4 linked regions of the Homo sapiens genome follow. The protein of the gene in region 1 purifies or fractionates together with the protein of each later gene. This does not show direct contact. Each region holds a gene or a part of one and is shown in the gene's direction. Other genes may lie near its edges.

Region 1 (4,693 bases):
TGAAGAGTGCTACTTCAGCTTCTAAATATTGCATTGTGATTCCTTTGTGCATTTGGCTGCTGTTTTCTCAAGCCATGTTTATCTTTGTATTCCCGGAGCTTGTCATTTGAGATATAGCCAGTGTACTTATTCACCTAGGGAGAGATAAGGAATGACAGGGTCCAGTTGAGTGGGATAGATGAGAACAGGGGTGTTATAGAAACCCAGGTACTAGGGCACAAGATGAGGGCACTGTTGACTAGTCATGATGGAAGAAGTAGGCAGACAGGAGAACTTCATTAGGTAGAATTGGTGGGATGTTGAGGTTGGTAAGAGAGGAATCTGAAGTAAGTTCCAGGTTGCTCAACTGTGGGTAGGCTGGTGATGCCATTCAAAGTGTTGGATTTTAGGAAGTGGGACATGCGTGAAATCTGTGCTGGGGGTCTGGGAATCAGCAGCCTAGAGGTGGTAATTAAAGTCAGAATAGATGAGATATTCAGGGTAAGATAATGAGAAGAGAAAATGGCTCAGAATAGAACTGAGGAGCATGTCATGGATGGGTAAAGGAAAATGAAGCAGTGAAGGTGATGGAAGAGGAGAAGGTTCACCCAGAGATGTAGGAGTAAAACCAGGAGAGTTAATTTTTTTTTTTTTTTTTTTTTAAGACAGAGTCTTGCTCTGTGGCCCAGGCTGGAATGCGGTGGCGTGATCTCAGGTCACTGAAACCTCTGCCTGCTGGTTCAAGCACTTCTCCTGCCTCAGACTCCCGAGTAGCTGGGAATACAGGCACATGCCACCACGCCCAGCTAATTTTTGTATTTTTAGTAGTGACGGGGTTTCACCATGTTGGCCAGGCTGGTCTCGAACTCCTGACCTCGAGTGATCGGCCTGCCTCGGCCTCCCAAAGTGCTGGGATTACAGGCATGAGCCACTGTGCCCAGCCAGTGTTTTTTTTTTTTTTTTTTTTATGGGAGGATGGGCAGGTTGTTAGCTGTCGAGTGCTATTGAGATGAGAGAGAACTCAGAATGCAGTGGGGTAAGGATTGCTGAGTAATGTGGAGGGCCTGTTTGAGGTAAATGGCAGTGGTAAGAGGTTGCTCCATTATGAAAGCCCTCTTCCAGAGTTCCTGATAGGGCCCCAGAAGTTCATTTCTGATTGCTTTGATTTTTTTTCAGGGGAGCAGGAAGCCAGTTTATCATTTGAGAGTGAGAATAGGGGAGAGGAAATATCTTCCAGGCCCACAGTGCATAGAAATACCCAGTCAGGGCAAAATGATTTATCTGTTTACCTCTCCTCATCACTTGGGCCCAGAGCAATCAGCAGTGATTAGGTAGAGAGGAGCCGAGCAGAGGGAAGAGCATACCAATCACTCCTCCCTTTCCCAGTGCAGGCTCCTAGACTTAGCTGGGGCAGAGCTGGGAGAGGAAAAAGGGATTTAAAACTGCAACAGGTGCAGATTATTGTTACACAGGATTAGACATTCTAATTAATTGAGATTATGTTTGTTCCTTAAACTGATCACAGGACTATCTATTAAGAACATCACAACCTCGCTGCAGCTTTTCTCCATAGCAGGGAGAGTACCTCCCAGTGAATAAAATTTGGAGGGTGGTAAGAGACAAGAATAAAATTGGGTTTGGTTATCCGTGCCTCATGCTTGTTCAGCATCCCTTTGAGAGTTCTCCAAATAAATAGTTACTGCTTCTGCAGTTATTGGTGTGCTCCAGCTTCTGTTCCCATAATATAGTCCAGTCCTAAGGGAACACAGTTCTAAAAGAAACAACATGATCTTGGCAGAGACACCGCTCAGCTCCAAACCCAACCATTTATGTAACTGCACAAAACTCTCTACAGCTTTTCACAGAGACCAGTAATTAGAACCTTTCATCCCCTGGTCATCCTCCTTCCCAGGTGAATTCTCTGACCAGCCATCTGGTTTTAGGATACCCAACTCCTGCAGTAACTGCCTTACTGGTGGTCTAATTGCTTCTACTCGTGTCCCTAAAGCAATTAATTTTCCACACAGCCATGTGATCTTTTTAAAATGTAAATCAGCTTATGTCACTTCTCTGCTTAAAATCCTTCAATGGATTCTCACTGCCTCGAGAACAAAAGACAAACTTTTCAGGCCCCGTGTGATCTTGCCCAGGCCTCCGTCACCATCACCATCTGCATCTTAACCCACTCCTCCCCTTTCACAAAACTCCAGCCACACAGACTTGCTTTTTATTCCTCAAGCTTTCCAAACTGTTTCTACTGAGAGTCTTTGCACATGCTCCATCTTCCTTGAATACTCTTTCCCCAGTGAGCTCATTTTCATCTTCCTGAATTCATACCACTATTACCTTTGCTTCTGTGGAAGAAACTGGCCAGATGCTCACCCAAATGTCCTCTTTCTGGACACAGGTAAACTGCATTTCCCAGCTCCATGCATCTAGGCCTATGTGAGTAGTTCTCAACAGTGGAAAATGAGTGGAAGTGATGTTTCAATACTAGACCAAGGCAGTTAAAGGGTGGCTGAGCCATTTCCATTATTCTCTTCCTCCTTCCTCTTCAAGGTAACCTTGAAGCACATGTTTTGACGGTGATGGAGTCATAGCATAGAAGAAGTCTGAATACCTGAGTTACTATTTAGGGCATAATAGCTACTTGACCAAAAACATCCATATTGGACTTTGAACAAGAAAATAAACTTGATTACATTCTGCTAGTGAGTTTTGAGGGTGTTTTAGCAGTTATCATTATATACACTGGATATATCTTCTATGGTATCCTGTCCACCTTACTCTTGACCACAGTACCCTCTTTGTTTCCTTCAGGGTGTTTCAGATATTTAATTATCTTGCCAGATGCCAGTCAACACTTTCTTTTTGTCCCATGAGTTTAAAATCAGGGGAAAACATGTACTCCCAATAGGAAGTTGAGATACTCTTTTTTTTTTAAATCCGTCATTGTGACTGTGACCGGAAAAACAAATCCCACTAAAGAATGTCCTAAACAGATGTTTTTTTTTGTCATATAACCTGGAGTTAGGTGATTTGGCATTGGTTCTGGAGCTGAAGGATGTTAGGGATGAGGTCTCTGTAGTTTTCTTGTCTCATGGTCACGAAATGAAGTGTTATTGATTAAGCAGGGATGCCCTACTTAGTATTAGACTTCTTGGAAGTCTCCTTAATTGCCACAGCCCCTATCTTTTTGGCTTCGTTTCAAGGGTCCTTCTACATTGTTAATACTCTGGTATAAATACGTTCCATTATTCCCTATAACATGACTGAAACCAATCTAAAGTATTAACATTTTAAATATGTTTTTGGGCCAAGTGCAGTGGCTCTTATCTGTGATCCCAGCTACTAGGAAGGCTGAGGTGGGAGGATTGCTTGAGCCCAGGAATTTCAGGCTGTAGTGAGCTATGATTGTGCCACTGTACTCCGGCCTGGATAACTGAGATCCTGTCTCAATAAATAAATAAAACAATTATATATATGTATAATATATAATATTATATATACATATGTATGTATGATGCTTTTCATCCCCACCCTTTCCCACATCTCAGGAACCTGTCAGCAACTTATCCAGTTTAAAGCTGCTGTTCCTCTACCTCAGTGGTTTGGGAGAACATGGTCATTATTTCACTCATTCTTTACTTCCTGTCTCTTCTAGGATTGGAATGGGGGAGGGCATATTAAACGAAGAAAGTCTCAGCTTACGTGATTAAGGTACCATTGGTGTGTTCTGTGCAGACAGGCATTTAACTGTTGACTCCTTTGTGAGCTCTTGGGGTTCTCTGGAGCTCTCCATGAGGACTGGGGCACTAACTGACTTTGGTTGCCTCTTTTTGATGCACAGCCCACACTGCCCTTCAGCTCTTCAGCCCCTGACCCTGACAATGTACCCACAGCCTCCTCGTGCTAAAGTGCTTCACCCTTGTACGCAGCTCTCCTGGGAATGGTCCCAACAAACCCTCAAGACTGGTTACCTTTCATGGAACCCACAGGAAATGCATGCATATTTGTCCTGCCAAACTGGAAGTGCAGCCCAGCCAGCAGCTTGCTTTTCTCACCCTGCCTTGTCGCAGCCAGCCTGACTCTTACTTATACATCTGAGAAGTGCCAGTCTCTATAATTCACATGGCTCCAAATCCTCATAAGTGGTTCAGGTTATGTTCTCCCAAGAATCCTCCATGCCACATTCCACCCTGGTGGCCAGATGGAGATGGGTCTGTACATTTCTGAGCTTACCAAGTCTCTATCTAGAGAATATAATGCTGAATGAATGTAATGCCTCTCCCTCACATGGGAACACTAAATATCTACAAATGGTTCTATTGGAGCCCTCCTCACTCAGTTTAGAATGAAGGGAGTGCACTACTCCTTTGTCTTGCAGGGAGAAGTTATCCCTATTCCTAAAGATTCCCATCAATGAATCTTTTATTTCTAATCTCACATATAATAGAAAGTGTAGTGGTCTGTGGATCAGCTTTACTATCTTAGAATAAACTTCATGTGGATATATCTAGTACCTTTATTTGGAATGTGTTGGTTCCTATCACCTCTTGTCCTCAGTTTCGGTATGTTATCCAAAGATCTTAGATAACTGAAAAACTCTAATTTAACTTTCTCTTTTATGCAGATATTCTTATTATATGTGGTTTCCTTTTTTGTGTGTGCTTTATTTCTGTGGAGTATTGCCTACAAATCTTGTCTTCTTTTT
Region 2 (4,203 bases), on another chromosome or scaffold:
CAAAGAAGAGGACCAGTGTGGATAATCAGTCAGAATTAAGTCTGTATTCACTAATGAGTGTTGCCTTTTACAGATGACTTTTTGAGCATATTCCCCTCTCTTAACATTGCTGCATTAGCTCATATCTGCTAGGGGTGACACCCTCTCTCTGACCTGCCTACAACATAGACATCTCCACAGGCACAATCATCTTGTCGGGACAGAGGCTCAGCGTCAACACACGTGCTTTTTCTACTAGAAACTCTGAGACCCCAACAGGCCACAAAAGCCCACATCCTCAGATGTTCAAAACACATCTGCTTACAGAATATGAAACACAATTTTCTTAGACTAGAGGACAACCTGATGGAGAATTTCAGTAATCACCAAGTTACTTATCTAATGCGCTGGTTCATGATTTATTTGGACACATACCTAAGTATCGATGAAGTCGTATTAAAATATGTACCAGCCTGTTTTTACTTATTTTTACTTTCATTTTATTTCAGAGCATTTAATGCGGTTTACAAATCAATCACATCTTCCAAAAACACACTGTGTTGTTTTTCTCCTCAAAGCAGTTTTTCATACATTGCATCATTTTCTGTTCATAACAGTCCCAAGGACTGGATAGGGTCGGCTTTGCTGTCTCCATTTTAATGACAGGAACTTAGATGTGGAGGCCTTACGCTGTCCAGGAAGGGGTTTTACAGACGTTACTTCGTTTGGTCTTCTCCTCCCACCCTGCACGGCGCAAAGAGCCCATCAGTTTGCGGAAGTCTGGGGTGGAGGACAGTCTGGAGTGACAGGCTGCTACCAGACCAGTCGATCTGGTTCGGGCTGTGACATAAGCTAGGGGTCGAAGTCAGGGGCACCCGCACAGGCGGACCTGCCTGGCACCTAGCCAAGGCGAATCCACCTTCCCGGCCAGCCACCAGGGCCTTGAATTGGCAAAGTATCGAATCCTGTTGTGTGTGAAGCAAGCTCTTCATGCGACACCTTCAGGGCGACCTCGGGTCAAGAACTACTCATTGTGCTGCTTGGACGCGCCGGGGCCCGAGTCTTCGTGGATCGGCCAGGCCAGGAGTGAAAGGTCTGGGAGTTCTTCCGGCCAAGAGCACCCGAAGAGCCACTGGGATCAGAAATGCGCCCCGGTGGACCCCAAACCCTGCAGCCGGGGGCGGGGGGTGTCGTGGAGTGTCCGCTCGCCCCATGCCGTGACCGGGACAACCGGTACAGCAAACTCACATGGAGCCCCAAGACTCTGGATCCCCAAGACTCTGGATCCCTATCGCCCCGCCCCTTCTGCAGGCCACGCCCCTTCCGCCGGTCCCAGCCTCGCGCGGGTCGGCCCCTTCCGCCGGCCTTTCCCCGAGCCCCGCCTCTTCCGCCAGCCCCGCCTCTTCCGCCAGCCCCGCCTCTTCCTGCGCCATGTGGGCCTGAAGCGCGTGTCTGCTGTCTGTGCCAGTGCTCCTGCCGGGTCCCCTCAGGTGTGTCGTTTCCGTCGCGCTTCCGCCCTCTCGGCCATGGGGGTCCCCAAGAGGAAGGCCTCGGGCGGCCAGGACGGCGCGGCTTCCTCCGCGGGTGCAGCCAAGCGCGCCCGCAAAGAAGAGCTCACGGGCGTGCGGTTCAAGGCTCAGCTGAAGGACCCGCAGGGCCCCGGGCCAGGTGAGTCCGGGGCGGCAGGCGCAGGGTCGGGAGCACAGGCTGGCGAGGCGGCCTCCGTGTGCCGGGCACAGCCTCTCCTTTCTGCAGCTTTCGGGTCACATAGGCTCAGTGGCAAGCCTCTGGTTTGCAGAAAACTGAGGTTCAGGACTGCTGTGTACTTCCTTGCTCTGGACTGTCGGCGACAGCGAGAGGGCCCCGACTTGCTTGATTGGGACCGTTTCATGTTACAACACATTTATTTCCCTTGCCCAGGCAGCATCCCTCAGCGAGCTCTAAAACCTCTTTATTGCAGTTGTCAGGGAAGTAAATGAAGTGTCCTTCTCTATTGAGTCCTTACTGAGTCGGCTCAGGACGGTTCATGAGACAGTTTGCTACTCCTTGGGCCGTCAGCACCGTTTTCAATAGCTTCCATCCCCCAACACTCATACTGACTTGATGACTTGTAACAAGCTACTAGAAGCCACCACAGCTACTTGTCAGTTGACCAGGAATGGGCCAGTGACTGAGATGTAGCCGACTCTATAATTTAATTACACTTTTTGTAAAGTGTGACCACCCTTCGCGACTACTTGTAATCGTTTGGAAAGTAACATGGTTTGGGAAAAACGCAATTGAACGTGTTGCCATGTGGAAGCATTGCTCTAAAATAAAACAGTGGCAGTTTTTCTCCCAGGTTAAATAAACGATTAAATTAATGGCCAAAATATCTTCAACTTCCAATTTTTGTCCTCATTTTTTTTTTTAAACGACAGGGTCTTGCTCTGTTGCCCAGGCTGAAGTGCAGTGGCACTATCATAGCTCACTGCAGCCTTGAACTTCTGGGCTTAAGCTGTCCTCCCACCTCAGCCTCCCAAGTAGCTGAGATTGTAGGTGCACAACACCATGCCCAGCTATGTTTTTTTTTTTTTTTTTACTTTTTGTAGAGATGGAATCTCACTATGTTGTCCAGGCTGCCCTCGAACTCCCAGTCTCAAGCAATCTTCCCACCTTGTCTTCTCAAAGGGCTGGGAGTATAGGTATGAGCCACCACACCTGGCCTGTTTTTAAACTTTGATACCTATACCTGTACTTGCTAGTCACAGCTAGGAAGATGATACTTAGTTAGCATAGAGTTATTTATTTCCGAATTCATTAAGTATTACTAGAGGCTATTATTTGCTACGGTAGAGATAAAGTGATGAATAAAAATGTCAAAAAGCCTCTGCCATTGTGGGGTTTACAAACAGTCGAGTGGGGCAGGCAGATATTGGTCAGTAAAATCACATACATACAGTTTCAAGCACGAGTTTTCCAAAGGAGAGGTACATGGTGCCTGAGGGTGTTTAACAGACCTTGGATCTAATCTGGGAGCTCAAAGAAGGCTCCCCTGAGGAAGTGGCTTTTCTTTTCTTTTTTTTTTAATCATACTTTAAGTTTTAGGGTACATGTGCACAACGTGCCCCTTTGTTACATATGTATACATGTGCCATGTTGGTGTCCTGCACCCATTAACTCGTCATTTAACCTTAGGTATATCTCCTAATGCTGTCCCTCCCCCCTCCCCCCGACCCGACAACAGGCCCCGGTGTGTGATGTTCCCCTTCCTGTGTCCATGTGTTCTCATTGTTCAGTTCCCACCTATGAGTGAGAACATGCGGTGTTTGGTTTTTTGTCCTTGCGATAGTTTGCTGAGAATGATGGTTTCCAGCTTCATCCATGTCCCTACAAAGGACATGAACTCATCGTTTTTTATGGCTGCATAGTATTCCATGGTGTATATGTGCCACATTGTCTTAATCCAGTCTATCATTGTTGGACATTTGGGTTGGTTCCAAGTCTTTGCTATTGTGAATAGTGCCACAGTAAACGTACGTGTGCATGTGTCTTGATAGCAGTATGATTTATAATCCTTTGGGTATATACCCAGTAATGGGATGACTGGGTCAAATGGTATTTCTAGTTCTAGATCCCTGAGGAATCGCCACACTGACTTCCACAATGGTTGAACTAGTTTACAGTCCCACCAACAGTGTAAAAGTGTTCCCATTTCTCCACATCCTCTCCAGCACCTGTTGTTTCCTGACTTTTTAATGATCGCCATTCTAATTGGTGTGAGATGGTATCTCATTGTGGTTTTGATTTGCATTTCTCTGATGGATCTAATTAAACTAAAGAGCTTGTGCACAGCAAAAGAAACTACCATCAGAGTGAACAGGCGACCTACAGAATGGGAGAAAATTTTTGCAATCTACTCATCTGACAAAGGGCTAATATCCAGAATCTACAATGAACTCAAACAAATTTACAAGAAAAAAAAAAACCCCATCAAAAAGTGGGCAAAGGATATGAACAGACACTTCTCAAAAGAAGACATTTATGCAGCCAAAAGACACATGAAAAAATGCTCATCATCACTGGCCATCAGAGGAAGTGGCTTTTCAAAAGGATTGTAGGATGGGACAGGGACAGGAACCTTACTGGCAGAAGAAAGAGCACGTTTAATTGTTAAAAAGATGTAGTATCTATATTTCATGGTCTTGCACAGAGAGCCTCATGACATTCAGGTGCTACATCATT
Region 3 (2,331 bases), on another chromosome or scaffold:
GTTTTTAGTAGAGACAGGGTTTCACCGTGTTAGCCAGGATGGTCTGAATCTCCTGACCTTGTGATCTGCCCATCTTGGCCTCCCAAAGTGCTGGGATTACAGGCATGAGCCACCGCGCCCGGCAGGTCTGCCCACGTTTCTCTGTGTAGCTCCACTGGGCTTCTTTCGGCAGCTGTGCAATGGAGTCTGTGGGTGATCAGAGGAGAATTCATTCAACCAGCCACCTAGGGGTGGACATTAGGTTGTTTCTGCTTTCCTTTTTCAGCTGTGCTGCAGTGGACATCTGTGACAGGTGCCATTGGGCTGGGGGGTCACGTCCCCGGGGATGCCGGGCCGGGCATTCTACATCCTCTTCAGCTGCTGTCGTTGGGGTGCTTCCAGCCAGCCTGGTCTTCCCTTCCTGTGGCTTTGGGAGGGGAAATGAGCATGGGTCACCTGCCTGCCACTGTCTGCCTCCTGCCTCCTCTGAGGCCTCCCTTTGTCCTCAGCCCAGGTGACCTTCAGAAAGACATTGGAGAAGGAAGCAAAGGGAGAGGAGCCCGACATCGCAGTCCCCAAGTTCAAACAGAGGAAGGGGGAGTCTGACGGGGCCTATATCCACCGCATGCAGCAAGAGGCCCAGCATGTGCTGTTCCTCAGCAAGAACCAGGCCATCCGGCAGCCAGAGGTGCAGGCAGCTCCCAAGGAGAAGTCTGAGCAGAAAAAAGCAAAAAAAGCGTGAGTGGAGGCGGGAGGGGGAGGGGTCTGCCCTGGGAGCCGGAGGGAAGACATTGGGTTCCCATGACGGCCCTCTGCAGGTACCCTGTTTCATAGCCATGGGGCAGCCTGGATTCAGGGAGACCAAGCCAGAGCCCTGGGAGTTGGCGAGTCGGAGCATCCAGCTGGGAGCCAGTGAGGGTGTGGCCTCCAGGAGGCTGCGGAACCTGGGAACTCTGCGGAGACCTCGCTTGGTCCTTGCTTTCACAGGAAAAGCACCAGAAAGCCCTAGCCCTGTGGGAATCAGCCCTGAGGGGGTCGGTCTGAGGGTGACGTGCCCAGGGGTTCTGTTTCCATTAGAACAGAATGTCTCTCGTCCAAGAGACTACACCTTCCTAATTCTCTAAAAGCTTTGGCCGAGTACAGTGGCTCACGCCTGTAATCCCAGCACTTTGGGAGGCTGAGGCAGGTGGATCACGAGGTCAGGAGATCGAGACCATCCTAGCCAACACGGTGAAACCTTGTCTCTAATAAAATACAAAAAAAAAAATTAGCCGGGCGTGGTGGTGCATGCCTGTAATTCCAGATACTTGGGAGCCTGAGGCAGTGGAATCGCTTGAATCCGGGAGGCAGAGGTTGCAGTGAGCTGAGATCGTGCCGCTGCACTCCAGCCTGGTGACAGAGCGAGACTCCATCTCAAAAAAAAGAAAAAAAAAAAAAAGCTTTGAAGGTTTGAGAGGTTGCTTTCAGCTCTGTAGATTCCCTGTTTCTGGATTGTTGTATTACTTATAGTTACCTTAGCCAGTGAAAGTTCATCACAGAGAACGTGGCCCAGATACAGCCTGGCGCCACGGTGATCTCCAGAGCTGTCGCTGAAGGTGAAGCTTCCAGATTCACATTGAGGGAGACGTGATATACAATGCTTGTTAGGCCCTTTAGACACAGCAGCACCGGATGGGCTGGATGAGTCTCTGTTGGGTGGTCTTTGGCAGCCTTCCCAGCCTTCGTGCACAAGGTGCCAGTAGCCCTTGCCCACGTGTCTGCACACATTGTCAGATGTTCCCTGGCAGGTAGCTGTCCCCAGCTGAGAACCACTGGGGGACCTGTGAGGGGCCTGTTGGGGTCAGAGCCTTCTTTGGTGGGCAGCTGTGGGTTTTGGGGTGGTAAGGGGAGCGGGGACTTGGAGGCAGCCACCTGTTCTTGGGTCCCTGCTCTGCCACAGGGGATCCCTTGTGGGTGGGGCGGCCTCTGCCTCCTCCCTGGGTGGAAAGAGAATTTAGGAATCTGAGTGACATGTGCTTTCTTCCCCAGGTTCCAGAAGCGGCGACTAGATAAAGTCCGACGGAAAAAGGAGGAAAAGGCGGCAGACAGGCTGGAGCAGGAGTTGCTCCGAGGTAGCTCTTCCCAAAGCGATGGTGTCAGCAGTGGTCCGGGTGGGGCCTGGGCGCAGGCCTTCTGTTCCCCACCAGCCCTGGCTGCACTGGGCACCTGTGGTTTCCCCTGGGGTCCACAGCCATTAGACCACTGGATGAGTTGGTGTTCTGTCCCAGCCCTATGGGAGGGAGGTGGGCGGGTGGTGGCTCTGGGTGTCAGGGGTGCAGTGGCTGTGGGCAGCAGTCCTCAGTTGTATTCTGC
Region 4 (4,064 bases), on another chromosome or scaffold:
TGCTCCCCGCAGACATTTATTGAGATGATAAATGGCCACACCCAATTGCTCAGACCAAAATCCTAGGAGCCTCACTTCCCTGTTACTCCATCAACCTCTGCCTGTTACACACGCACATCAAATCTACCCACTCCCGGCCGGGCACGGTGGCTCACACCTGTAATCCCAGCGCTTTGGGAGGCCGAGGCGGATGGATCACTGGAGGTCAGGAGTTCAAGACAGCCTGGCCAACGTGGCGAAACCCCAGGTCTACTAAAAATACAAAAATTGGCAGAGAGTGGTGGCGTGCACCTATAGTCCCAGCTACTCAGGAGGCTGAGGCAGGAGAATCGCTTGAACCCAGGCGGCAGAAGTAAGGGAGGAGACCACCCCTCATATTGTCTTATGCCCAATTTCTGCTTCCAAATAAAGAAGTAAAAACTAAAAGGCAGAAATAAAATCCACAGGCAGACAGCCCGGCGCCGCGCCCTGGGCCTGGTTAAAGATCAATCCTTGACCTAACCGGTTATGTTATCTATAGATTTCAGACATTGTATGGAAAAGCATTGTGAAAATCCCTGTCCTGTTCTGTTGCGTTCTGATTACCGGTGCATGCAGCCCCCAGTCACGTACCCCCTGCTTGCTCAATCGATCACGACCCTCTCACACAGACCCCCTTAGGGTTGTAAGCCCTTAAAAGGGACAGGAATTGCTCACTCAGAGAGCTCGGTTTTTGGAGACGTGAGTCTGCCGATGCTCCCCACTAAATAAAGCCCTTTCCTTCTACAATTCGGTGTCTGAGGGGTTCTTGTCTGCGGCTCGTCCTGCTACAGAGTGAACTGGCAGGAACTCCTCCCGGTGCCTGGGCCTCAGTTTCCCCACTGTACGTGGAAGATGAGCCGCTGTGAGGCTGAGCAAGGAGCAGCCCAAGGCGGGAAAGGCTCGAGAGTCCAGGACGCAGGCGAGCGACCTAGCCCGGCTCTCACTAGCCCCACCGCCCAGTGCCCCCAGCTCAGCTGCCCTACCAGGTGCTACACACACAGCGGCCCCCCAGTTCCCTTCCGGCGTTCGCATCTCTCATCCCCATCCCGGATCTTGGGGAGGTCCTCGGCTTGCCCCAGTCAAACTCGAGGTCGATGACCCCGGATGCCGCTGGCTAAGGCGGCGGCCCAAGTCCCGTGCGGGTGAACCGCCCAGGCTGCGCGGAACCAGAGGCAGGGATCCGGTTTCCAGCCGGTTGTGGAGAGACGAGCGCTTCCGGGGACTGGAGCGTGCGTGCTGAGGTATGCGCAACGCGTGCGGGGTCTCTTCCGGAGTCTTTTCCTGGACGGGGTCCCTGCGGTGGGTGTGTTTCGGCCTGGCCTGGGCAGGCGCTTGTGCTGCCAGGGCGCCGGGCCCGGGGAGGCCGGGGTCTCGGGTGGCCGCCGGCCCAGGCGCTGGACGGCAGCAGGATGGGGAAGGCGAAGGTCCCCGCCTCCAAGCGCGCCCCGAGCAGCCCCGTGGCTAAGCCGGGTCCTGTCAAGACGCTCACTCGGAAGAAAAACAAGAAGAAAAAAAGGTTTTGGAAAAGCAAGGCGCGGGAAGTAAGCAAGAAGCCAGCAAGCGGCCCCGGTGCTGTGGTGCGACCTCCAAAGGCACCAGAAGACTTTTCTCAAAACTGGAAGGCGCTGCAAGAGGTGAGGCTTGAGGGGGCCCGGGCGGAGCGCTGCGCAGCTCATTCCCGCAGAACGCGACGGAGGGAAAGACTTGGGTAGCCCCAAAAGACCTGTAAAGGCAGATTTGAATCGAAATCTTGTAAACAGCTTTTCACAAGAAAGGTGGCCTGTTGAGGGAGGTCTCGAACTTGTTTGCTTGAAAGAAATTGATGAAAGAATTATTTCAAGTACAAAAAAGCAAAGATAAACCCTTGTACCTTTTGCATAATGAACTAACTAGAATGGATTTTACAAAGAGAAATTTAGCTTAAAATCCCGAAACCAGGCCGGGCGCGGGGCCTCACGCCTGTGATCCCAGCACTTTGGGAGGCCGAGGCGGGCAGATCCCCTGAGGTCAAGAGTTCAAGACCAGCCCGGCCAACATGGTGAAACCCCGTGTCTACTAAAAAAGTACAAAAAATATTAGCCGGGCGTGATGGCGCGCGCCGGTAGTCGCAGCTACTCGGGGAGCCTGAGGCAGAAGAATCGCTTGAACCCGGGAGGCAGAGGCAGTAGTAAGCCGAAATCGCGCCACTGCACTCCAGCCTGGGCGACAGAGCGAGACTCCATCTCAAACAACAACAACGAAAGAACACACTGGTCTGTGTAGCAAGACAGGGAGAAAGAAGATTCCTGTGTAGAAGTGAAAAGCAGATAGCAGACATGTGATGGGGTTCTAGCGACACTTACGGTCTTGAAGTAAATACTAATTGAGCTCCTAAAAATGTGCACTCTGCCATGTGCTCTATGCCATGCGTGTTGCAATCCCCACAATAAGACTGTGAGGTGGACACTTCCATCATCGCTATTGTACAGATGAGGAAATAGGCTGGAAAAGTTTAAATAGATCATCTAAGATTGCGGCTGGGAACCAGGTGGCTGACTCTGGAGTCCATGCTTTTAAGGCTGTGTTGTACCTGCTGTCTCCCTAGTGACCTGCACTTCTGTAGAGGTTGCCTGCTCTCTCCTAGACACTCTTCCACGTGCGTCACTCATACATTCTTACCACATCCCTTGGAGCTCCCTTGGAGCTACCTCCTGTTAGGATCATAGCTCACTGCTGCCTGGGCTCCAGTGATTCTCCTGCCTCAGCCTCCCGAGTAGCCCACACGTGTAATCCCAGCACTTTGGGAGGCCCAGGCAGGAGGATCACTTGAGCTCAGGAGTTCAAGTCCAGCCTGGGCAACATGGTGAGATTCCATCTCTAAATAAAAGTAAAAAGTAGTTTTTTTAAAAAAGAAATGTGATCCCCAGTGGTGGAGATGGGGCCCATAGGAGGTATTGGGTCATGGGGGTAGATCCCTCATGAATGACTTGGTGCCCTCCCCTCAGTAACGAGTAAGTTCTCACTCTGCTGGTTCATTTGAGAGCTGGTTGTTTAAAAAGAGCCTAGCACCTTTTTTGCTTGCTCTCTCACCACGCAACACACCTGCTCCCCCTTCACCTTACACCATGATGGGAAGCTTCCTTCGGCCTCACCAGAAGCAGATGCTGGCACCATGCTTCTTGTACAACCTGCAAAACCATGAGCTACATAAACGTTTTTTCTTTATAAATTACCAAACACAGGTATTCCTTTATAGCAGTGCACAATGAACTAATACAGATGGGGTTTCACTTTGTTGCCCAGGCTGGTCTTCAACTCCTGACCTCAAGCAATCCTCCCACCTCAGCCTCCCCGAGCGCTTCTTGAACCTCCTAATACTCTGCACAGTATCTCAGTGCAGACATTCCTGTCTTAACACACAGGACCAGTCAAATTCCCGTGGGCAGCCCCAGGGTTCTGTGGGATTTCTTGAACACCAACTCTTCTTCCTTCTCCCAAGAAAGAAAAGCAAAATAAGTGAATGGAAGGGATGTGTGCTATAGGGAAACTTTGGAGTGTTTTCTAATTCATCCAAGAAAGTCAGCCCTTCAGTTCTTTACCTATCACAGAACAGGTAAGTAGCACCCGCCTCATCATCGCACTGTGGTGGCGCCCACTCCCACTGGGGATTTGAACACAGGGAGGAAGCTGGGCTCTAAGACTACAGGAGCCTCTGCTTGGGTGACAGCCAAGGTGTGTGGCTGCTAGCAGTTCTTCAGCCACTCCAGTTTGACAGAAGCTTTTCTTTTCATTTATGACACCCCCCACCTTCCTGAGATCTTCACAGCAGTAGCAAACCAGGGAATCTTGTAAAAAAAAAAAAAGCGATTTCTGTGTAGCAGGATGTTGGCCCAAGCTGTGAGGGAAGTTAACTCCAAAATTCTTTCTAGATAAGCTGAAAAGGGAAGTGGTCTGTGGTGTCCAGCCACTCAACAGGTACCCAAGGTGTAGAATGAGTTTGACATTTTGTATGCATGAAGGAGCAGGTGCAAAATGCATTATAATAAGATAAGCAAAGAAACAGC

Evidence for each region. The genes of interacting proteins can lie anywhere in the genome.
Region 2: the proteins of RRP8 (region 1) and URB1 purify together in Homo sapiens (co-immunoprecipitation; 3 studies listed by BioGRID and IntAct, with this or other methods). This does not show direct contact.
Region 3: the proteins of RRP8 (region 1) and CCDC137 purify together in Homo sapiens (co-immunoprecipitation; 3 studies listed by BioGRID and IntAct, with this or other methods). This does not show direct contact.
Region 4: the proteins of RRP8 (region 1) and REXO4 purify together in Homo sapiens (co-immunoprecipitation; 3 studies listed by BioGRID and IntAct, with this or other methods). This does not show direct contact.

What each region holds. Positions count from the first base shown.
Region 1 is NC_000011.10:6,593,838-6,598,530, reverse strand, and holds the end of RRP8 (ribosomal RNA-processing protein 8), read left to right. Parts: 3' UTR 1-3,459; downstream 3,460-4,693.
Region 2 is NC_000021.9:32,390,213-32,394,415, reverse strand, and holds the start of URB1 (nucleolar pre-ribosomal-associated protein 1), read left to right. Parts: upstream 1-1,403; 5' UTR 1,404-1,505; coding exon 1,506-1,647; intron 1,648-4,203.
Region 3 is NC_000017.11:81,669,737-81,672,067, forward strand, and holds part of CCDC137 (coiled-coil domain-containing protein 137), read left to right. Parts: intron 1-488; coding exon 489-717; intron 718-2,007; coding exon 2,008-2,090; intron 2,091-2,331.
Region 4 is NC_000009.12:133,415,211-133,419,274, reverse strand, and holds the start of REXO4 (RNA exonuclease 4), read left to right. Parts: upstream 1-1,264; 5' UTR 1,265-1,430; coding exon 1,431-1,655; exon of another isoform or gene 1,656-3,613; intron 3,614-4,064.